Linked DNA regions of Homo sapiens. The protein of the gene in region 1 purifies or fractionates together with the protein of each later gene. This does not show direct contact. Each region holds a gene or a part of one and is shown in the gene's direction. Other genes may lie near its edges. The genes, in order: HDHD5, TMEM63A, PCDHGB4, ELSPBP1 and TIMM44.

What was found.
Region 2: the proteins of HDHD5 (region 1) and TMEM63A purify together in Homo sapiens (co-immunoprecipitation; one large-scale study listed by IntAct). This does not show direct contact.
Region 3: the proteins of HDHD5 (region 1) and PCDHGB4 purify together in Homo sapiens (co-immunoprecipitation; one large-scale study listed by IntAct). This does not show direct contact.
Region 4: the proteins of HDHD5 (region 1) and ELSPBP1 purify together in Homo sapiens (co-immunoprecipitation; one large-scale study listed by IntAct). This does not show direct contact.
Region 5: the proteins of HDHD5 (region 1) and TIMM44 purify together in Homo sapiens (affinity purification with mass spectrometry, with the first as the bait; one large-scale study listed by BioGRID). This does not show direct contact.

What each region holds. Positions count from the first base shown.
Region 1 is NC_000022.11:17,138,885-17,142,696, reverse strand, and holds part of HDHD5 (haloacid dehalogenase-like hydrolase domain-containing 5 isoform 2 precursor), read left to right. Parts: intron 1-488; coding exon of another isoform or gene 489-628; exon of another isoform or gene 629-1,300; coding exon of another isoform or gene 1,301-1,304; intron 1,305-1,463; coding exon 1,464-1,638; intron 1,639-3,812.
Region 2 is NC_000001.11:225,861,565-225,866,247, reverse strand, and holds part of TMEM63A (mechanosensitive cation channel TMEM63A), read left to right. Parts: intron 1-280; coding exon 281-351; intron 352-3,396; coding exon 3,397-3,477; intron 3,478-3,669; coding exon 3,670-3,793; intron 3,794-3,896; coding exon 3,897-4,030; intron 4,031-4,683. UniProt on the Homo sapiens protein: Mechanosensitive cation channel with low conductance and high activation threshold. In contrast to TMEM63B, does not show phospholipid scramblase activity. Acts as a regulator of lysosomal morphology by mediating lysosomal mechanosensitivity.
Region 3 is NC_000005.10:141,385,830-141,391,050, forward strand, and holds the start of PCDHGB4 (protocadherin gamma-B4 isoform 1 precursor), read left to right. Parts: upstream 1-1,868; 5' UTR 1,869-2,055; coding exon 2,056-4,452; coding exon of another isoform or gene 4,453-4,467; intron 4,468-5,221. UniProt on the Homo sapiens protein: Potential calcium-dependent cell-adhesion protein. May be involved in the establishment and maintenance of specific neuronal connections in the brain.
Region 4 is NC_000019.10:48,011,058-48,015,740, forward strand, and holds part of ELSPBP1 (epididymal sperm-binding protein 1 precursor), read left to right. Parts: intron 1-3,113; coding exon 3,114-3,251; intron 3,252-4,683.
Region 5 is NC_000019.10:7,929,560-7,934,242, reverse strand, and holds part of TIMM44 (mitochondrial import inner membrane translocase subunit TIM44), read left to right. Parts: intron 1-4; coding exon 5-154; intron 155-239; coding exon 240-379; intron 380-672; coding exon 673-758; intron 759-1,310; coding exon 1,311-1,403; intron 1,404-1,491; coding exon 1,492-1,616; intron 1,617-3,054; coding exon 3,055-3,105; intron 3,106-4,683. UniProt on the Homo sapiens protein: Essential component of the PAM complex, a complex required for the translocation of transit peptide-containing proteins from the inner membrane into the mitochondrial matrix in an ATP-dependent manner.

The sequences.
Region 1 (3,812 bases):
AGCCCTAACTGTAATAGGGGGATATAAAAGGAAACATTTTTAGTAAGAAGATAATGTATTTCAGTATGTAGTAGTTATCCAAGAAGTAAAATGGTTGCACTAAACAGAATCACCATGAATGTTAACAGCTACAAATGCAGGCTGATGTGTGTTTATAGGTGTGACAGGCGTGTTTTACCGGTGACTCAGAAATTAGGGGCAGCATTGCCGTTGGTCAAGTGATTTTCCAAAATAGGTAACAGTTCTTGGTAGAGTTTTGAAAAGGCAAAGTACAGTCTTCTCTTGACTTACACGATAGTTGTATTTTTGGAAAAATTGATGTTTATTGAAGCTGTACAAAAATGCTTTGTGATTGTATGTAAAATAGAATCGTTCAAGTAATTCTGAAAAGGTTGTTCACCTGTGTGGATACCAGGATATCAGGTGGGACATTCAAATGTTATGAGGACATGGGAAAGTTTTTTCTTTTTCTTCTTGTTGTTTTGTAGAGACGGGCTCTCACTATGTTGCCCAGGCTGGTCTCAAACTCCTGAGCTCAAGCAATCCTACCACCTTGGCCTCCCAAAGTGCTGGAATTACAGACACAAGCCACCGCACGCAGCCATGGGATGGTTTTTTTAAAAATTAATTTTAGTGTGGGATAGTTTTTGATTGCACAGGATTGTCCTGAGTATGTAGCGTCCCTGGCCCCCTCCCACAACCTTCACTTGCTAGGTTCTAGTCATTGTGACAACTAAAATTGCCTCTGATTTGTAAAGCACCTCAGCAGGGGCGGTGCTGCCCCATGGAGAATCACTGGTCTGGTGCAGTTCACCGGCCCTGTACCTTAGTGTCAGCAGTGTTCTTTGCCTAGTGCTTACTGTGTGTCTAGTCCTGGGCTGTTTACCGATGATGTAGCTCATTTTTATCCTCACAATAGCTAAGTGCTGTTGCTGTTATGTAGTTGCAGTTGAGGAAACTGAGGCTTAGAGAAGAGAAGTTACTTGGCCACAGTCATACAGGAGAATCGGTGGAGTCCAGGTTGGGTTTCAAGTCTCTATCACTCCACACCCCCTGTCCTGGCTGTTAGGTTCTGCCAGTCCCTGGGGCTCAGAGAGAAGCGACTGAGGGAACAGGAGCCCTTGCTAAGTCATGTGAGGGAGAATGTGGTGGCAGAGTCCCAGCCAGCAAGGAGAAGTAGCCCTGAGACATGCTGCTTTTGTTTTGTAACCTCTTCTGTGAAGCACTGGTGGACTGAAGTCAGAATGGGAGCCCTCAGGAATCTCCTTCCTGGGCCCTGGGCCTTGTGCACCCAGGGTGGATGGGTAAGGGGCTCTACTGGGCTTGTTGGGGAGCTGTGCCCCTGCCCAGCTGGGTGCACCATGGGTGGAGGGCTTGTGGATGGGTAGCCCTAGCTGGCATCCTGAGGGCCTGCCGCCTGCCATCTGCCCTGCAGCCCTCACCTGCGCCTCTGTTCTTTAAAGGGGTGCTCCTCCTAGGGGAGCCGGTCCGCTGGGAGACCAGCCTGCAGCTGATCATGGATGTCCTCCTCAGCAATGGGAGCCCTGGGGCTGGCCTGGCAACACCCCCCTACCCCCACCTCCCCGTCCTAGCCAGCAACATGGATCTCCTGTGGATGGCTGAAGCCAAGATGCCCAGGTGAGGACACAAAGCTCCCAGCCTTGGCCTGGTGGTCTATTCCTGGCTGCTGCCTGGGCAGTCCTGCAGGCAGTTCCCATCCGTCCTGACACCCCAGGTGCCGGGACCTCACTTAGGTAGGCCCTGTTGTTGCTGCAGTAACCTGGCCTTTGGAAGGGCTTTCAAGGACCACTCCACATATTAGTTACTAAACCTAAACTACAGATTATGGAGTCTGAGGATGTATTGAGAGGATGTTTCACACGTGACCCCTGCCCCCTGTAATCTTTACAGAACATGCTCTTGGTGTCTGGTGGATCCCAAACCGTGGGCACTTTTTGTACCGTATCTGTGCACATTATTCAGTTGCTCTTCCTTCCTTGGCTCCATCCTGTAGCATTGGTTCTTTGACTTTCTGGTTTCCTTTTACCCTTCAGACATAAGGCAGGAGGAAGCAAGGATTTGTCGTTTTTTGTTTGTTTTGTTTTTTTTGCGGGGACAGTGTCTCACTCTCTCATCCAGGCTGGAGTGCAGTGGTGCAGTCATAGCTCACTGCAGCCTTGAACTCCTGGCCTCAAGTGACCCCCGTGCCTCAGCCTCCAAAAGTGCCGGGATTACAGGCGTGCTCCATCATGCCGGCCAAGGATTGTTCTGATAGTCGTATAGACCAGAGAACTGAGACCCAGCAGATAAGTGGCTTTCTCAGGGGCATGCAGGTGCCTATACTCCCTGCTCAGCTGTGTTGGTGTCATGTGTCCTGTCTTATTCTGGGGCTAGCACAGATAGAGGCAGCCCTTTTTTGGCCTCAGGGTGCTTACTTGAAGGCCAGCTGACAGCTGCTGTGTACTGTTCGGTTGCTGTTATCTGCATGGCCAGTCTCTTGAGTCTCAGCCTGCTGTTGACCCCCAGTCGACAGTGCTCGTCAGCAGAGGGTGGGCACGGCCCAGTACTGCCTCAGGGCCCGTCTCAGTAGTCCCAGAGAGACGGGGTATGGTATGCTCTTGTCACTTTTAAAGTGTATGTCTGTGGCTCGAGGCTTGGCATTGTCTCTGAAGTATTATTCCTAGAGGCGGGTATGCTGACACTAGATCAGTGGGCTTGGTTGGTTATGTCTCTGTGAACTGAAAAGCAAGGGGCAGATTTCAATTTACAAACCAGATTTTAGATGAACTTTTCTAATTAAAAGTAGAATTATTTACATAAATGACACTGAAAGATGTGGTGGCTCATGCTTGTAATCCCAACACTTCGGGAGGCCGAGGTGGGTGGATCACCTGAGGTCAGTTCAAGATCAGCCTGGCCAACATGGCAAAACCCCGTCTCTACTAAAAATATAAAAATTAGCCGGGCATGGTGGCAGGTGCCTGTAATCCCAGCTACTCGGAGGCTGAGGCAGGAGAATCACTTGAACCCAGGGGGTGGAGGTTGCAGTGAGCTGAGATTGTACCCAAGCGCCAGCCATCATATCAGCATTCCAGGTGTCAAGAAGGAGTTGGGGAGGGCAGAGAGGGCAGAGAAGAATACCGTCCCCAGTTTGTTTGTTTTTTTTTTTTAGATGGAGTCTTGCTCTTTTGCCCAGGCTGGAATGCAGTGGTGCAATCTTGGCCCGCTGCAACCTCCGCCTCCCGGGTTCAAGTGATTCTCCTGCCTCAGCCCCCCAAGTAGCTGGGACTACAGGCATGTGCCACCACACCCAGCTAATTTTTGCATTTTTGGTAGAGACAGGCTTTCACCATGTTGGCCAGACTGGTCTTGAACTCCTGACCTCAGGTGATCCACCTGCCTTGGCCTCCCAAAGTGCTAAGATTACAGGCATGAGCCACTGCGCCTGGCCGCCTGTCCCCAATTTTAAGGATGCTTATTGAAAATTTAGCCCAGCATTTCTGCTTTCCTTGACTGTAGCTTAGTCACATGGCCACGCCTCGCTGGCAGGGAGGCAAGCGAAGGTCTTTTTCACACCTAGTGGCAATATGGTCAGCTGAAAATGGACACCAGCAAAGAAGGGGAGAAGCGCAACCGTAGTCTGCCTCAGCTCTACAGCAGGATTTAAGCTCTGGAGTCAGACTGAGTTGTAATCCTAGCTCTGCCCTCTTGAACAAGTTACTTAATCTTGCTGTGCCTTGGTTTCCTCGTTTTACAAATAGCGTCATCTCATAGAGTTTTTCTGAGAGGGAAATGTGAAATGCTGCCTCCAG
Region 2 (4,683 bases), on another chromosome or scaffold:
CTGTGTGACCGCATTTGAGTCACTTCCCCTCTTTCTCAGTCTCCTGCCATGCAAAGAAGGCTCATAGAGTTGCTTTGGAAGTGGATTCTTTGTACAGCCTGGAAGAAGACGCTGTGTAAATGACATGCTTTGGGGGCTCCCCCGGCCACAGAAGGAGAAAACTGGAGCCTTCTGATTTCCTGTTGTTTACTTTCCAGAGGCTGGAGTTGGGTAGGAAACCTGAGCATACCGGCACACTGGCTTGTGGGTGACTTCTCTCCCTGCTGTATTTCCCGGACAGGTGAGGCGGACCCTGTTCATCACAGGACTCCCCAGAGATGCCAGGAAGGAGACTGTGGAGAGCCACTTCCGGTAAGCAGGTGGGGTGGGAGGGGAGCTGAGCCCCCTCCACGTAGGACCAACACAGCCCCACCCGCAGGGCGAGCACCTTAGGTGAGCGCCTTCTGTCTCTCGCTTGGGTATCCAGGTGAGATCTGAGAAGGACCTGGCCCTGCCACACGTGTATGGAGTGGCTCCTGTGTGCCAGCCCTGCTGGTGCTGTGCAGTGAATAGCGCCCTGGTGGCCTATCCTCTTCAAGCAGCCTGTGCACAGTGTCCAGAGCACAGACCAGGGTGTAGGTGCGAATAAACGTCTTGAGAGCATACGGGGGAAAAAATTGTTGACCCCGGGGTTCTTAGCATCACCTTTGCAGAATAAGAGAGACGTGAGCTGAGCATTTGTATGGACCCACAGGGCTAGGGTCTCACAGGTGGAAGGACCTCGGGGCCATCTCTGCGTTTGTTCGTTTGTCCACCCACTGAGCGGGTGTCTGTTGAGTGAGCACTGTGTCTGAGTCCAGGCTCTCCCTGGTAGAACCTCCTTTCCAGCGGCTCCCTTTGAGTATCTGCACCACCAATTCCTGCAGATGGAGGCTGGAGGAAAGTCTTTCCTGTGAGGAGATTACGTGTGCAGCCAGGGATGCGGGGAAAGGCCCAGAGCATCAGGAAAGGTGGCGGTGGGGTGCAGGGGGGCAGGGCAAGCAGTCCGGGAAGGCTCCCAGGACCCCATGCTGGAGGACCTGAAGGCTGGGCTGAGGAGCTGACATTTTATTCTTTCTTCATTCCTTTTTTTGTAATCTTATTTTTTTAGAGACAGGGTCTTGCTCTGTTGCCCAGGCTAGAGTTCAGTAGTGCAATAATAGCTTACTGCGGCCTCAACTCCTGGACTTAAGGCATCTTCCTGCCTCAGCCTCCCAAGTAGCTGGGACTGCAGACACATGGCACCACACCCAGCTAATTTTTAAATTTTTTATGGAGATAGAGTCTTGCTATGTTGCCCAGGCTGGTCTCGAATTGCTGGGCTCAAGTGATCCTCCTGCCTTGCCCTCCCAAAGTGCTGGGATTACAGGCGTGAGCCACCATGCCCGGCCTCTCTTCATTCCTTATCAATACAGCAGCCACTAATTTGTTGCATGGACTAGGAGTTGGCTGCACTTTAACTTTGCACTATTTGTGAAGAAAGCACTTGCTAAGCAAATTGCTAGACAGGATCGTAAACTGAATGTTTAAAATTTGAAAAACTTCTTCAGAAACTCTAAGTATTTTAGAAATATTTACTAATATGTAAATACTCAATACCAGAATCATTTTTCTGTATTTCCTTGAAGCAACTCCTCAAAGTTGCCTGCTAGGCAACACCTGGAAACAGTAATTCCACTTAATGTATAACTTTAAAGAGAAAAAAAAAGTCTCCTCATTCTCATACAAACATTGCATGACTCATGCTTTCCCCTATTTTAAGAGGCCTTTTTAGTGAATGCTGTTGCAGTCCGTGGGGATTGATGTATGAATTTGCCTTTCAAGCAGGGATGCTTAAATTGCAGTTTTCTTCCTCACAGCTCTTATTGAGACCAGAAATTGTCCTACTGTTTAATTTCATGATTGATATACCTATGGGCTGTCTCTCTCACTAAAATGTAAGCACATCCAGGCCCTGTTACCAGCACCTAGAACAGTGCCTGGCAGGTGGTAGGTGGGGATTTACATGGTTCTGGAATCCCCTGGAATTGTATGTATAATTTTGCGTGTATGGTGAGGGGGTATTGCATGGTGGCCATGAGCATTGACCTTGGAGCCAGGTTGCCTGTATTCACCTCCTGGCTCAGACACTCACTAGCTGTGTGATCTTGGGCACAAGCCACTTACCTCTGTCGGCCTCAGTTTACTCATCTGTAAAATGGGGACAAAACCTCACAGGTTATGATGAGGATTAAATAAATAAATATATGTAACAATACCTGGTCAATAGTGAGTATGTATTTTGCTGGGTTTTTTTTTTTTTTTTTTTTTTTTTTGAGACGGAGTCTCACTCTGTTGCCCAGGCTGGAGTGCAGTGGGGCAATCTTGCTCACTGCAACCTCTGCCTCCCAGGTTCAAGTGATTCTCGTGCCCCAGCCTCCCAAGTAGCTGGATTACAGGTGTGTGCCACCACACCTGGCTAATTTTTGTATTTTTAGTAGAGACAGCGTTTCACCACATTGGCCAGGCTGGTCGCAAACTCCTGACCTCAAGTGATCCACCCGGCTCAGCCTCCCGAAGTGCTGGGATTACAGGCATGAGCCACCGCACCTGGCCTTGCTGGTTGTTAATATGTGTGTAGATATTTTCTGGTCTGAGGGTCCTTTGCTTTCATTAGACCCTCTGAAAGGTCTGTGACCTTAAAAAAGGCTACCTGAATAGGATTTCAGTGATGGCTCAAGGTAGATACTGACCTAGCACAAACAATAAATCTGTTCCTTTGGGTCTTTAGAGGGGATAGTGATGTGTTCATTTTTCCCCAGGAGAAGTGCCAGCTGATTCCAAGCCAAGTGGGTATAAACTTGTCAGTTCCAGGCAGTTAGCTTCATACTACTAAAAAAGGCTAGCGGGGTGCAGTGACTCACGCCTACAATCCCAGCACTTTGGGAGGGTGAGACAGGAGGAGTGCTTGAGGCCAGAAGTTCGAAATCAGCCTGGGCAACATAGCGAGACCCCGTCTCTACAAAAAATAAAAATCAGCCTGGTGGCATGTGCCTGTAGCCCCAGCTACTCAGGAGGCTGAGGTGGGAGGATTGATTGAGCCCAGAAGGTTGAGGCTACAGTGAGCCATGATTGTGCCACTGTACAGCAGCCTGGGTGACAGAGTGAGACCCTGTCTCTAAACAAAACAAAACAAAACAAAAGCCCTCTTTGTATTAAATTTCAAAATTTCCCCCTTTTGGAGGATAAAAGACAAAGAGAAGAGAGGTCTCCGCTGGCACAGAAACCAGCAGCGAGATCACTCTGCCATCCTTTCCCTTGGATCCGTGGGCACGTCTCCTGCTTGGGGTGTTTTCTTTTCCAACGGTGTCTTTTGCCTCCTTCTCTCCCTGGCCACAGGGACGCGTATCCCACGTGTGAGGTGGTTGATGTGCAGCTGTGCTACAACGTGGCCAAACTGATCTACCTGTGCAAGGAGAAGTGAGTGGTGGGCGGGCCTTGCAAGATGCCCCCTCCTTCCTTGCTGGCCTCGCATCTCCCAGCTAGGAAGGGAGGCGGGAGGCCCTGGACCCCTCCTTCTCCCCTGGCGTTCGATGGTTGAACTGTGGGTATGGGGGTCCCTGCCACAGGATTCTAAATCTGAGGTTTGTGCCCCCGCTCCCACCCCTACAGAAAGAAGACTGAGAAGAGCCTGACCTATTACACAAACCTGCAGGTGAAGACAGGCCAGCGGACCCTCATCAACCCCAAGCCCTGTGGCCAGTTTTGCTGCTGTGAAGTGCTGGGCTGTGAGTGGGTAAGGGTCCCACCCCCCGGCTGGGAGCAGAGGCATTGGCATCGGGGTGCCCCAGATACCAGCATGGGGCCACGTCATCCCAATGGGATGTGTCTTGTGGCAGGAAGACGCCATCTCTTACTACACACGGATGAAGGACAGGCTGCTGGAGAGGATCACAGAGGAAGAACGCCACGTCCAGGACCAGCCCCTGGGAATGGCCTTCGTCACCTTCCAGGAGAAGTCCATGGCCACCTAGTGAGTGTAGGCACATCCAGACCCCTTCTTGGCTGACTCCCTGTTCCCCTCCAGATAACTCACTGTCCCTCTCGAGTGGAGATGGTACTGCTGACCCACCATCCCTGGGATTTATCTGTGGTGTTTCCTTCTCCTCCCTCAGCTACCCACACTCACTTTCAGCCAGCCCAGCCCATGTTTGTGTAACAGGCGGTGGGGGTGTGGGCAGCAGCCACGGAGTGGGTGATTCTGGCTGACCCCCTCGAGCTGATGTGGCCTGGCCCCACTGCTGGGCTCTTCCCTGCTGCCCTGGACCCATCCTGTTGGCTTCATGTGCCAGCCTTGCCCCAGGGGAGATGGAGGCACCCTCCTTTCAGACATCTGCTCTGGGCCACAGATCCTTCTGTCTGTGGCTCCCCACCTTCCCACAAATGCAAAGCTGTGGGGAAGACCCCTGGGGCACGCTGGGGCGCTCACTGCAGTGGGGAGCTTGACCCTGGGGAGTGGCTTTTCACAGTGGCCCTTGGCATGGGACTCTAGGCTCTCATGCCTGTGGTCTCAGTGTCATCTCGCCTTAGGAGCAGCACAGGGTGGGTCGGGAGAGGGGTGTGGAAAGGTGTCCAGCCACTGCCCCAGGCATTGTGACACTAGGAATGGACTCACACAGGACTTCC
Region 3 (5,221 bases), on another chromosome or scaffold:
AGTATAATCATTTATTAATGGGGTGGTAGTAGAAGGTTGGATTTATGCCTAAAGAATGAAATGTGTGTGTATCACACTTCACTAAGATCTATATCAAAGACAGACATCAAGTCTAATGCCACACTAAAGGCCATCGGACAAAACCAATAAAATATGTCAAATAAAATGTCATTTTAAGTGTTGTAATTGGCATTTGTGACATAGGCAATTACATGTTTTAACAGAGAATTCCAGTATGTTGTTTTAGTGGTACAGCCAGATGAAGTGTGTCTGTGGGCTATCAAAGTGGGAGATTGGGGATACTGGCTTTGTTTCAACTGTCTCACGTACTCAAACCTTAGACCATCTTATGTACACAGATCCTAGACCAGTAGTTGATTTTATTTATTAGGTCTACTGAAAAATTCAGTTGGAAATAACCCAATCTGGGATTAACTACTTCCATATTCTTTTGTATAACATTTTAGTAAAGCTCAGTATATCAAGTGATTGTCATCCAGAAGGGGTGGATGACAAGGTAATCTTGATTCCAGAGACCTTTGAGTATTAATTAAAAACACACTTTTAGCCAGGTATGGTGTTGCAAGCTGTAGCCCACCTGCATGGGAGGCTGAGGCAAGAGGACAGCTTGAACCCAAGAATTGGAGGCCCACCTAGATAATATAACAAGACTCTGTCTCTTCAAAAAAAGACTCTTTTTAGACTAGTGTTGTATTTGGTAGTATTTTGCACATGATAGACTCTGTACAATAGTGTGGGGGATACATTTTTTTTTTTTGACATGGAGTCTCGCTCTGTCACCCAGGCTGGATACATTTTACAAGTTCTGCAGTGTTCACATTTCAGATGTACAATCACTTGGGGTAGAAGACAATGTTGCTGACACCAACAATGTTACTGAGGGAAGATCCTATGGCAGAACTACGGTTATAAGGTATTTTGTAAAAGAAAATCTCCTGACCAAAATTTATTAGATGCATAAAATTGTTTTTAAGCAATGGAGAGACATAATCACTAAACTCAGTGAGCTATTGCAATCAAACTTTCCAGGGATTGTTTCCTTCAATTCAGAGGTCACCAAGGAATGTAAAATAAGTGCAGAGGTAGGAAGCAGTGCTTCAGTGCAGCAGATCTCAGTGACTTTGTGTTTTGAGGCTATGTATTATCCCCCTGATAACTTTGAAGATGAATGTTGTATTTCATAACCAGTAAAATAATTGTGTAATGAGGAGAGGAGTAGGCTACTGCCTGTGATCATCGAAATGAGAATCACATAATATTCCTGTAATGAAATCACTGAAACTATTGGGAAGGGGGTGTATTTGAAGATAAGTATAAATTGCACCTTCTAAAAGGCAATTTTGGTATTACTGATACTCTCCGGAAAAAGTTGAAATAAATCAACTTGGAGGTACTTAGAAAAGTGGAGAAAATGTTAGGAACAATGAAAGAAAGATAAAATGTATCCAGTATATTTCTAATGAGTAAGTATGGAAAATTACTGTACTCTGAGACGGTTTAGGCCAAGTCTGTGTTATGGCTATCTTTATATAGATAGTGCATGTTTGAAGATTGGGGAAAGCTTATGTCAATAAATGTTTATGTACTTAATCTACATGATTTGCCTAAAAATCCTCAAAGTTGGGATGAAGGCATTCCTAAGAGTACATTTTTAGACGTCATTAAATATACAGACGTATCCACGTAGTTTTTGTTCTTTCAGTTAGGCACACAATTATAATTATTGCACTGGTTAACTTGAAGCAGCAGAGGCTGTAGTTTCCTAGTGCTGACTCTGGGCGCCGCTGTTGGCCAAAGTGGAGAGCTTGGCGCTCCAGATCTCCTCGCGCAGCCGCAGCGCGCTTTCCAGGGCAGCCCCAGCTCAGACTCCCCAGCGCCAGCCTTTACACCGCTTCCTCCTCGGAAAAAGAAGAATTTTTTCTTGAACTGGAACTGCAACTAAAGTCCGTTCGGAGATCCAAAAATCTGCAATACAGAGGTTATTTGTAACCCGGCGTCTCCAGGCTGGTGAGCAAGCTGAGGAGAGCAAGAGGGATGGGGAGCGGCGCCGGGGAGCTGGGCCGGGCTGAGAGGCTGCCAGTGCTCTTTCTCTTCCTGCTGTCTTTGTTCTGCCCGGCGCTCTGTGAGCAGATCCGCTACAGGATTCCCGAGGAAATGCCCAAGGGCTCCGTAGTGGGGAACCTCGCCACGGACCTGGGGTTCAGCGTCCAGGAGTTACCGACTCGAAAACTGCGCGTCAGTTCGGAGAAGCCTTACTTCACCGTGAGCGCAGAGAGCGGGGAGTTGCTTGTGAGCAGCAGGCTAGACAGGGAGGAGATATGCGGGAAGAAGCCAGCTTGTGCTCTGGAATTTGAGGCTGTTGCTGAAAATCCACTGAACTTTTATCACGTGAATGTGGAGATCGAGGACATTAATGACCACACGCCAAAATTCACGCAAAATTCCTTTGAGCTGCAAATAAGTGAGTCTGCACAGCCTGGCACACGATTTATATTAGGATCTGCCCATGATGCGGATATTGGTAGCAACACACTGCAGAATTACCAACTCAGTCCCAGTGATCATTTCTCACTGATAAATAAAGAGAAATCAGATGGCAGTAAATACCCTGAGATGGTATTGAAGACACCTTTGGACAGAGAAAAGCAGAAATCCTACCACTTGACTTTGACTGCCTTGGACTTTGGAGCTCCACCCCTAAGCAGCACTGCACAGATACACGTTCTAGTGACTGATGCCAATGATAATGCTCCAGTGTTCAGTCAAGACGTATACAGGGTGAGCCTTTCAGAAAACGTGTACCCGGGGACCACGGTGCTACAGGTGACTGCCACGGACCAGGATGAGGGTGTCAATGCCGAGATTACTTTCTCTTTCAGTGAAGCTAGCCAGATCACCCAATTTGACCTGAACTCTAACACCGGGGAAATTACTGTTTTAAATACATTAGATTTTGAAGAAGTCAAAGAATATTCCATAGTTTTGGAAGCAAGGGACGGTGGAGGAATGATTGCGCAATGCACAGTGGAGGTAGAAGTCATAGATGAAAATGACAACGCCCCAGAAGTGATATTCCAGTCTCTACCCAACCTAATTATGGAGGACGCCGAGCTGGGAACACATATTGCTTTGCTCAAAGTCCGTGACAAGGATTCCAGACACAATGGAGAAGTGACTTGTAAATTGGAAGGTGATGTTCCATTTAAAATATTAACTTCTTCAAGAAACACGTATAAATTAGTGACAGATGCTGTTCTAGACCGCGAGCAGAATCCAGAGTACAATATAACCGTTACGGCAACAGATCGGGGCAAGCCTCCCCTCTCCTCCAGTTCCAGCATCACCCTGCACATTGGTGATGTAAATGACAACGCTCCGGTTTTCTCACAGTCTTCCTATATAGTCCACGTGGCCGAGAACAACCCGCCTGGAGCCTCTATTTCACAAGTCAGGGCTTCTGATCCGGACTTGGGGCCCAACGGCCAAGTCTCTTACTGCATCATGGCCAGTGACCTGGAGCAGCGGGAGCTGTCATCCTACGTGTCCATAAGCGCGGAGAGCGGGGTGGTGTTCGCGCAGCGCGCCTTCGACCACGAGCAGCTGCGCGCCTTCGAACTCACACTGCAGGCCCGCGACCAGGGCTCGCCAGCGCTCAGCGCGAACGTGAGCCTGCGCGTGTTAGTGGACGACCGCAACGACAATGCGCCACGGGTGCTGTACCCCGCGCTGGGTCCCGACGGCTCTGCGCTCTTCGATATGGTGCCGCACGCTGCAGAGCCTGGCTACTTGGTGACCAAGGTAGTGGCGGTGGACGCAGACTCAGGACACAACGCCTGGCTGTCCTACCACGTGCTGCAGGCTAGCGAGCCCGGGCTCTTCAGCCTGGGGCTGCGCACGGGCGAAGTGCGCACAGCGCGTGCCTTAGGCGACAGGGACGCCGTCCGCCAGCGCCTTCTGGTCGCCGTGCGTGACGGTGGACAGCCACCACTCTCGGCCACTGCCACGTTGCACCTGGTCTTCGCCGACAGCTTGCAGGAGGTGCTGCCGGATATCACTGACCGCCCCGACCCCTCTGACCTCCAGGCTGAGCTGCAGTTTTACCTAGTGGTGGCCTTGGCCTTGATCTCAGTGCTCTTCCTCGTGGCCATGATTCTGGCCATTGCCTTGCGCCTGCGACGCTCCTCCAGCCCCGCCTCCTGGAGCTGCTTCCAGCCTGGTCTCTGTGTTAAATCCGAATCCGTGGTTCCCCCCAACTACAGCGAGGGGACTTTGCCTTATTCCTACAATCTATGTGTTGCACATACAGGAAAGACGGAGTTTAATTTCCTAAAATGTAGTGAGCAGTTGAGTTCAGGACAAGACATACTTTGCGGTGATTCATCTGGGGCCTTATTTCCACTTTGTAATTCCAGTGAATTGACTTCCCATCAGGTGAGTTTCCTTTAAGTATAATTTAATGCTCATTGCCTACCCATTTCTCCATATTCACAAGAAAATATACATATTTGCAGGAAAATATATAATTTTTAGATGTCATGGATCATTTTAGGAAAGTTGTAGTCAGTTAAAAAGCTGTCATATCATTCTACAAAGGAGGAGTAAAGTAGGAGCAATTGTGTGGCCCAACATTTGTTTGTTTTTTAGCCAAGCTTAGATTTATAAAGCAATGAGGGTGTGGTTTTAACCACAAAGTGAAAGTGTTAGACAGTTGTTGGCTCTCTCCTAAAAAGTGAATGAGATTTTTCCTATACATTTTCCTTCTTGTTGACTAATATATGATGAATACTTTTTTCAGCTTGGATATACCATAAATATAAAAATAATAAAGCCAAAGAATTTAAGCTAAAATTCAACACTTTTCTTAACTAATTTAACTGGTATGGTCTCCATAGTAGTCCACTGTTTTGTTTCCTGTGTTAACTTCCCTTTTGTTTCAAAAGCTCTTAGAATAAGGAGTCAACTGGATTTTTATGTCCATGGACCCCTTGTGATTATATGCAGTGTACGCTGTGTGTGCGTGTGTGTGTGTGTGTGTGTGAGAGAGATCCTTTTACTTAGAAAAAGGTCTACTATGCTCATTAGAAGATCAAAAGCAGATTCTCCTTACTTGTAACATAGGAGTTTCAGGATTAATCTGTATTCAAGCTCATTCTATATCCTTCATCAAAGAAAAGACAATGTTTTGTGTCTGTTGTCCCTC
Region 4 (4,683 bases), on another chromosome or scaffold:
TGATGACAATGATGACGGTAATGATGACAACAATAATAGCGACAATGACAATGATGATGGTGACAGTGATGATGATGACGATGATGATAATGATTATGACAATGATGTGATGAGGAGGAAAATAATGATTACAATAATGATGACAATGATGATGAGAATGACAATAATGGGGTTGATGATGATGATGACAATGATTGATAATGATGATGACAATGACGATGATGATCACCATGATAATGACAATAATGAGGTTGATAATGATGGTGACAATGACTGATGATGATGACAATTATGACGATGATGATGATGATGGTGACAATGATGATGACGATGATAATGATGATGTCAATAATGATGTGATGAGGAGGAGAATAATGATCACGATGACAGTGATGATGATGACAATGACAATAATGAGGTTGATGATAATGACAATGACTGATAATGATGATGACAATGATGATGACAATGACTGATAATGATGACAATGATGATGATGACAATGATGATCATCATCACATGATAATGACAATAATGAGGTGGATTATGATGACAATGATGATGACAACGATGATGATGATCATCATCCTGATGACAATGACAATAATGAGACTGATGATGGTGACAATGACTGATGATGATGATCATGACAATGATGATGAGCATTATGATGATGCCAATGACAATAGCGTGGAGAATGATGATGATGACAGTGATGGTAATGATGATGATGATGACAATGATAATCATAGCTAATATTTATTAAGCAGCAGCCATGCTCCAGGTACTCTTCTAAGCACTTTCCAGATTTAAACTGGTTTAAGTTTCACAAAAATAAATACCAAACAGTTCTGAGAAACAAGGTGAAAAATGCAATGAACTAACAGTTGAGCAAGTTGAGCTCTCATCCCAGGTCTACAAAAAAAAAGCAATCAACTTTAATTAGTCCTTATTGTACGTGGGTTTTCATGTAATGAGGAATTTGGGATAGAATAGCATTTCTTTCTTTTTTCAAAAAAATTTACACATCAAAATTCTGCAGAACACCGTTTTTGTTTTTTGTTTTGTTCTGTTTTGTTTTGTTTTCAGACAGGGTCTCACTCTGTCACCCAGGCTGGAGTACAGTGGTGCAATCATGGCTCACTGTGGCCTCAACTACTCAGGCTCAAAGGGTCTTCCCCTCAGCCTCCCAAGTAGCTGGGATTACAGGGGCACACCACCATGCCCGGCTAATCTTGTTTGTTTGTTTTTTTGTAGAGATGGGGGTCTCACTTTGTTGCTCAGGCGGGTCTTGAAGCGATCCGCCCACCTCAGCCTCCCAAAGTGCTGGGATTACAGGCATGGAGCATTGTGCCTGGCCGAGAACAGCATTTTTTGATATATTTCAGGGACCATTAGTCTCTAGTGCCATTGAATTTTGAAAAAAAAGAAGGACAACTCGATATACTGTATTCATCAATTCTCATTTTCATATTAACTTTTCTGTTGAGTCCTTCATTAAAGAAACCTGTTTAACTTTATTTCACGTGGCATTTTTCCAAACTTATTTTATTGTTTCTGTTGTTTCTTGAGCAAATAATTATTCTAGGTTCTGTAGATACACTGCACAAAAAACAAAGTTCCTGTACTCATTGAGAAGAATAAGGACGTCGAAAGTTGTCCCCTCAATATTTGCCACATCTGGGTACCACCAGTACTATTATTTACTCAACATTTTTCTTTAAATTTGCTTACTTTTCTTCACTTTAAAAAATTCATTTTGGGAGATTGGTTAACATCAGTATTATAATATAAAAAAGCACTACCACTTTCCATAAATAGGAAGTACGACCAAAAAGAAATACTGTACTATGAAAACAAAATCCCATTATTAAATTCTGCTAGACTATCGTCCGAATAAAGCTTTGAGTTTGAGTCCTGCTCCCCACCCCCCTCTCTTTTTTGTTAAAATGGGAGATTATTAAGTATTAGAGATGCAGTAGAGAAATACTACTATTAAATTGAAGCTTTCTCTTTTGCGTAAGCAGAAGGACTAAAAGGACCACTGGAAAATGATTTTTTTCTAGTCTATATTTCAAAATTATTTAATGTGTGTCCTTACATAACCTAATGTGATCTTGTGATCCACCAAAAAGTATTTTGTGTAATGTCATTGGCCCCCCATTTTATGCTCTGAGAAACAGTGGTCTCAAGGAACAACACACCACGGTTGTCTTGGTTGTGTATGAAACTCTTCCCCAGTGCTCCTGGCCCCAACATGAACTGGATATGCTCTGACATGTCATTAGGAAATTGGATGCTAAGCCTAGGTGTGTAGCCTTCAGGCCACCATGAGAACTGTCTCAGTCCATTTGGGTTGCCATAACAAAATACCACAGGCCAGGCATGGTGGCTTACGCCTGTAATCCCAGCACTGTGGGAGGCCAAGGTGGGAGGATCACCTGAGGTTAGGAGTTTGAGACCAGCCTGGCCAACATGGCAAAACCCCGTCTCTACTAAAAATACAAAAATTTGCTAGGTGTGGTGGCGGGCACCTGTAATCCCAGCTACTTTAGAGGCTGAGGCAGGAGAATCTCTTGAACCCAGGAGGTGGAGGTTGCAGTGAGCTGAGACCAGACTACTGCACTCCAGCCTGGGTGACAGAGTAAGACTTCATCTCAAAAAAAAAAAAAGTAAATAAAATAAAATTTAAAAAGTACCATTGACTGCGTAGCTTATAAACAATATAAATTTCTGTCTCCCAGTTCTGGAGGCTGAGAAGTCCAAGGGCAAGTCACCAGCAGTTTCAGTTGCTGGTGAGGGCCTGCCTCCTGGTTCACAGATGGTGCCTTCTTGCTGTATCCTCACATCGTAGAAGGGGCTAGCTAGCTCTCTGGGGTCTCTTATAAGGGTTCTTATCTCAGTCATGAAGGCTCTGCCCTTACGACCTAATCACCTTCCAAAGGCCCCTCGTACCATGACCGTGGGGGTTAGGATTTTAACATATGAATTTTGCGGCGGGGGCAGGGAGGGAACACGGACATTCATATTAAAGCAAGAGCCAAACCAAGACTCATCCTTTGCTAATTCATCGTGATTCTTCCCCACTCCTGTTTTCTCCTTCTGCCCTTCAGGGATGCATGAGGAATGTGTCTTTCCTTTCACCTACAAGGGATCTGTTTACTTCACTTGCACCCATATTCATAGCTTATCCCCTTGGTGTGCCACCAGAGCCGTGTACAACGGCCAGTGGAAGTACTGCCAGAGTGAAGGTGAGTGGTATCACATTGTCCCTGCCAGTGGCCTTTGAATAGGGTGGATCACAAAAGAGAATGTGTGACTGTCTATGACATGATCACATTTTTGCAGACAAACGGTAATACGTATGCGTGCGTAGAAAAGGCTCTGGGTTTTAATGATCGCCATTCTAACTTGTGTGAGAACACATGGACACAGGAAGGGGAACATCACACACCGGGGACTGTTGTGGGGTGGGGGGCGGGGGGAGGGATAGCATTAGGAGATATACCTAATGCTAAAGACGAGTTAATGGGTGCAGCACACCAGCATGGCACATGTATACATATGTAACAAACCTGCACATTGTGCACATGTACCCTAAAACTTAAATTATAATAATAATAAAATTTAAAAAAATCAGTGATAATGTAATGGGTAATAAATGATATATAATTACTGTTTTTAATTTCCACAAATAAAAAAAAAAGAAAAAGAAAAGGCTCTGGGATGCCTGACAATGAATGCTAATAATGGGTAATAATGTTAATAATGCTAGTGTTAAAAATAGTGCTCTCTGGATGAGGGTCTTGTGATACTGTAAGACTAGTTGACCCAATAGAACCATCCCATCTTTATGCCTTTCTTAATTTTCTAAGTTAATAAGGAAAAAGGAAACGAAGTGTAAGAAACGGGATTTGAGGCTGGGCGAGGTGGCTCATGCCTGTAATCCCAGCAAAACTTAACTACTAATAGCCTGCTATTGACGAGACGGCTTACCAGTAACATAAACTGTCAATTAACACATATGTTTTATGTCTTATGTATTATATACCGTATCTCATAATAAAGGAAACTAGAGAAAAGAAAATGTTAATAAGAAAATGGTAAAAAGGAGGAAATATGTTTGCTATCCATTAAGTGGGAATGGATCAGCATAAAGGTCATTAGCATCATCTTCATGTTGAGGAGGAGGAGGAAGAGGAAGGGTTGGTCTCACCATCTTGGGATGACAGAGGCAGAAGCAATGGAGGAGGTGGAAGGGGAGGCAGGAGAGACAGACACATTCAACATAACTTTTTTTGAAAAACACCCATGCCCACTGGGCACAGTGGCTCATGCCTGTAATCCCAGCACTTTGGGAGGCCGAGGCGGGTGGATCACCTGAGGCCAGGAGTTCGAGACCAGCCTGGGCAACATGGCGACACCCCATCTCTACTAAAAATTAAAAAAAATTAGCTGGGTGTGGTGGCAGGCATCTGTAATCCCAGCTACTCGGGAGGCTGAGGCAGGAGAATTGCTTGAACCCAAGAGGCAGAGGTTGCAGTGAGCCAAGATCTCGCTATTGCACTCTAATCTGGGCAACAGAGTGAGACTCTGTCTCGAAAAAAAGAAAAGAAAAGAAAAGAAACTCACATATAAGTGGACCCGAGTTCAAACTTGTGTTGTTCAAGAATCAGATGTATA
Region 5 (4,683 bases), on another chromosome or scaffold:
GTAGAGCCTTCACGAAGTCAGTAAAAGTGATCTCGGCCGGAAAATCAAGGAGGGCGTGGAGGAAGCAGCCAAGACGGCCAAGCAGTCGGCCGAGTCGGTATCCAAAGGCGGGGAGAAGCTGGGCAGGACAGCGGCCTTCAGAGCCCTCTCCCAGGTGAGCCCAGTCCTGGGCTAGGGCATGCAGCCTGGGGCGGCCGAACCCAGACACCCACCCCAGCCCCGCTGTGCCTCCCTCGCAGGGGGTGGAGTCCGTGAAGAAGGAAATTGACGACAGCGTCCTGGGACAGACCGGGCCCTACCGGAGGCCCCAGCGACTCCGGAAGAGAACGGAGTTTGCGGGAGATAAGTTCAAGGAGGAGAAAGTGTTTGAGCCAAACGAGTAGGTACCAGCCCGTGGCCCTCGCTGCCCCCATTTTGGGCAGCTTTCACTGCTGTCCATTTCGGGAGCCCACCAATGGTTCCCTCCTGAGTCCGTTTCTTGAGTTTGCCTTCTGCCCAAGGTTCCCGGCTCCCTCGAATTTGAGGGTGAGAGGTGAGGGCGGGGTCCTCAGAGCCCCTAGGTTTGAGGTCTCAGCTGCCTGCTGTCCTGTACTGCCCCCTGCCTGCAGCCGCAGGAGGGCACAGGGTGGCCCTGGCGCCGCCGCTCACCCCAGGGCCCACCCTCTTCCCCAGGGAGGCCCTGGGGGTCGTGCTGCACAAGGACTCCAAGTGGTACCAGCAGTGGAAGGACTTCAAGGAGAACAACGTGGTGTTTAACCGTGAGTGAAGGTGTCTTGGAGGGCAGGTGACTGTGTCCCGGGCAGTTGGTGGACCGCAAGGTGATCCCCCTGCATTGGGCACAAGACAGCCCCGTTTTGCAGAGGAGGAGATCGGGGTCAGAGTGGGCCGGTCACTTCTTTGCGGTCACATGATGGTGGGGCTGTAGATTCTGCCGCCAGAAGCCAGGTGCTCCCTCATAAGCACAGTCAGGGCCCCGAAACGAGCCGCAGGCCCCTGTCCCTTGTCCTGTGAGGACTGCTAGAGGCCTGTGTTTCCTTTGTAGTGAAAGCAACAGCCAGTGGGGTGGCGGCCCATAACTTACACAGCCCCATTAGGGCCGCAGCTGAGGGGCCTCTGCGCCTGGCCAGGTAGGTGGGCAGGCAGCGGTCCCCAAGCACAGATGAGGATGCAGGTCCACAGCCGTCCCCTCCCTGACCCCACCCGTGTCAGGGTGGATCCCGCAGGGGTCACAGGGAGCCTCTAGAAGCTGTGAGGGAGGGTTGTGTTTCTGGAAGGGGCCCCTTCTCCAGCACCTACCCCATCTTCCACAGGGTTCTTCGAGATGAAGATGAAGTATGACGAAAGCGACAACGCGTTCATCCGGGCATCCCGGGCCCTTACGGACAAGGTCACCGACTTGCTGGGTGAGTGAGTCATCCCTGGACCTCGCAGGCTGGTGGTGGGGCGGGGTCCCCGGCCTTCCCCCCGAACTCCCGGCTCTGCTCCCTGCAGGGGGCCTGTTCTCCAAGACAGAGATGTCGGAGGTGCTCACGGAGATCCTCCGGGTGGACCCGGCCTTTGACAAGGACCGGTTTCTGAAACAGTGCGAGAACGACATCATCCCCAATGTCCTGGAGGTGGGTGCCACACCCCCAGGACCCCTCCCAGGCGGCAGGTCCTGGCTCCACCACCTCCCCCGCCGCAGCCGGCACCCTGGGTGCTGCCAGGGAACTCTGCTGCCGAGGCTGTTTTCTGAGGAGGCTGGTTGCACACGGGCTCCTGCCCGGCTGCAGCTGCCCCATGAGCTGTGCCCGAAGCCCTTCCTGGGCCTTACCGGCACCTCCGGTACCTCCAGGTCTGTTTCCCTCACTCCTCCTGCCTGAGGCTGTTGTTCCTTTGAGGTTGCTGGGAGCAGCTGCTGGAGGCTAGGGATTGTCTCAGGTGCCTGGAGCCCCTCACCCCTTGGGAGAAGTGGGCGTCTGTCTTCAGACATCAGAGCTGGCCCCAGGCCACGTCTGACCCAGAGCTGCAGCCGTGAGGTTCCCTCACGGTGCTGTCCCTGGCAACCAGACCCTTGTTGGGCTTATAGATGAGGGTATCTTGCTCAAGGTCATGCTGCAGCCTGCCCCCTATAAGCCTCTCCCTGAGGTTGGTGGCCTCTTGTCTTCCCTGCTGCCTCTGCCTCTCTGCAGCCCCCAGGATGCAGGAGGAGCCTGGACACCTTCGGCCCAGTCGGGCCAGGCCTCTGGAAGGCCCTTCATGGGACTCTCCATCCTTGGCCCCGCCGGCCTCCGCCCAACGTCCTCTTCCTCCTCCAGTTTCCCGTATCCTTCCCGCCACTTCGGGCAGGGCTGGGAGGTGGTGCGGATGGGCGCCATGCCCCAAAACAGCAGCCTGAGCACCGCAGTGCCTTCCGGGATGGGTGATGGGTGCCAAGTGTTCTGGCCACCCGCCCCCTGCCGCTCACAGCTTTCACCACCAGCATCCGGCTCCTTCCCGCTCTTCTCCCCGCTCCAGGCACCTCCCTCCCCCTCATCGGATCCGGCCCAGGCTCCAGGATCCTGTGGAAGCAGCTCCCAGCCCAGGCACGCCCCCTGCAGCCCACCCCTCCCTCTCGCTGCCCCCAGCAGTTAGGAGGCAGCCGGTCCCATGGTGGGCCTTGCAGTCCGAAATGTGGTCCCCTGGGGGGACAGAGGACATGGGCTCACTGCGGGAGCCGGAGTTGGGTCCTCATCTCCCTGGCTTGGATTCCTGACCAGGCTGAAAGCTGGGTCCCCAGCCACCTTTCTCTTCCTCCACCAGGTTCCAGGGGGGTCCCCCTGTGGGGTGCCTCCTGGGTGGTCGCCCGCAGGCCGCCCTCCGCCTGTGCCTAGGCCAGAGCCAGGCACTGACACCAGCAGGGACGGGCCTGGGGGGGACACCCAGTGCCACAGCTCCACCCGCGCCCCACAGGTGGCAGCCGGGGGTGTCTGAGGAAACTCCCCACCCCGCACCACTGGAGAATGTTCCCAGGACCTCGCCTGCTGCCTGAAAAGCCCACTCTCGTTCTGGTGCTTATTTTCCCTTCCTTTTTAGGCCATGATTTCTGGAGAGCTTGACATTCTCAAAGACTGGTGCTATGAAGCTGTGAGTACTTCCTTTCTTTTTCTTTTTTTTTTTTTAAGGCCTAAAAAATCACCATGGAGAAGTTCCACTTCGGTGGCTCCGTTGGGGTAGCTCCCAACAGGCAGGACCTGGGCTCCCGGTGGGGGAATCCTCACGTCTCACCCTCCGAGAGCCTGACATCCCCCCCTGCCCCTTTCCATTCCTCAGCATGTGACACATCTGGGCTCTCAGGCTGGACACCGGGTCACCCGCCAGTCCTTTGCTCCCAGACTGTAAACTTTGTTAGGGAGAATCCTTCTCTGGGCTGGTGTCTAAGAGATGGCTGGTTGGGGGTGTCCCCTGGGCCTGTGAGAGATCACAAAGCTGCCAATTTTACTGGGCCTTTTTTTTCCCTCCAATCTTAAAATAATTTTGGTTAGGTCTGGGCACGGTGGCCTATGCTTTCAATCCCAGCAGCCCAAGGCGGGAGATTGCTTGAGCCCAAGCATTCAAGACTAGCCTGGGAAACATAGCAAGATCCCGTCTCTACAAAAACATTTAAAATGAGCCAAGTGGCAGGGTGCGGTGGCTCATGCCTGTAATCCCAGCACTTTGGGATGCCAAGGCAGGCGATTGCCTGAGCTCAAGAGTTCGAGACCAGCCTGGGCAACATGGTGAAACCCCATCTCTACTAAAATAAAAAGTTAGCCAGGCATGCTGGTGCATGTCTGTAATCCCAGCTACTGGGGAGGCTGAGGCAGTAGAATTGCTTAAATCCGGGAGGTGGAGGTTACAGTGAGCTGAGGTCGCGCCACTGCACTTCAGCCTGGGCAACAGAGCAAGATTCTGTCTCCAAAAAAAAAAAAAAAAAAAAAAGAGCCAAGCATGGAGGCAGGCACCTGTTGTCCCAGCTATTAGGGAGGCTGAGGTGGGAGGATCACTTGAGCTCACGAGGTCAAGGCTGCAGTGAGTCATCGCAGCACAGCACTCCAGCCTGGGTGACAGATCAAGACACTGTCACTAAGGAAATAGGTCGGGCACGGTGGCTAACGCCTGTCATCCCAGCACCTTGGGAGGCTGAGGCGGGCGGATCACCTGAGGTCAGGAGTTCGAGACCAGTCTGGCCAACATGGTGAAACCCTGTCTCTACTAAAAATACAAAAATTAGCCAGGCCTGGTGGTGGGCGCCTGTAATCCCAGCTACTCGGGAGGCTGAGGCAGGAGAATCGCTAGAACCCAGGAGGCGGAGGCTGCAGTGAGCCGAGATTGCACCACTGCACTCCAGCCTGGGCAACAGAGCGAGACTGTCTTAAAAAAAAAGAAATAATAATTTAGGGAAGGAGAGTCCCAGGAGAGGTGGTTGCAGCCATGAAGTAAAATGAGGTGTCTGGGGGCCGACTGCCCTATTTCAGGTGGCTGCAGTGGCCTGGGGTGCAGGCTGGGGCCGGGGGTCAGGGACAGTGTGGGTCTCCCACATGACTGGGGGGGGGCTGGGAGTCAAGTGGGGTTTGAAGGTGTCACCCATCCCACTTCCCAGGCCAGAGCAGAGTCCCTGTGCTCACCTCCCACGGGTCGTGAGAATGAAGTGTGATCACAGAAACCAGGGCAGTGCTGGCCCCG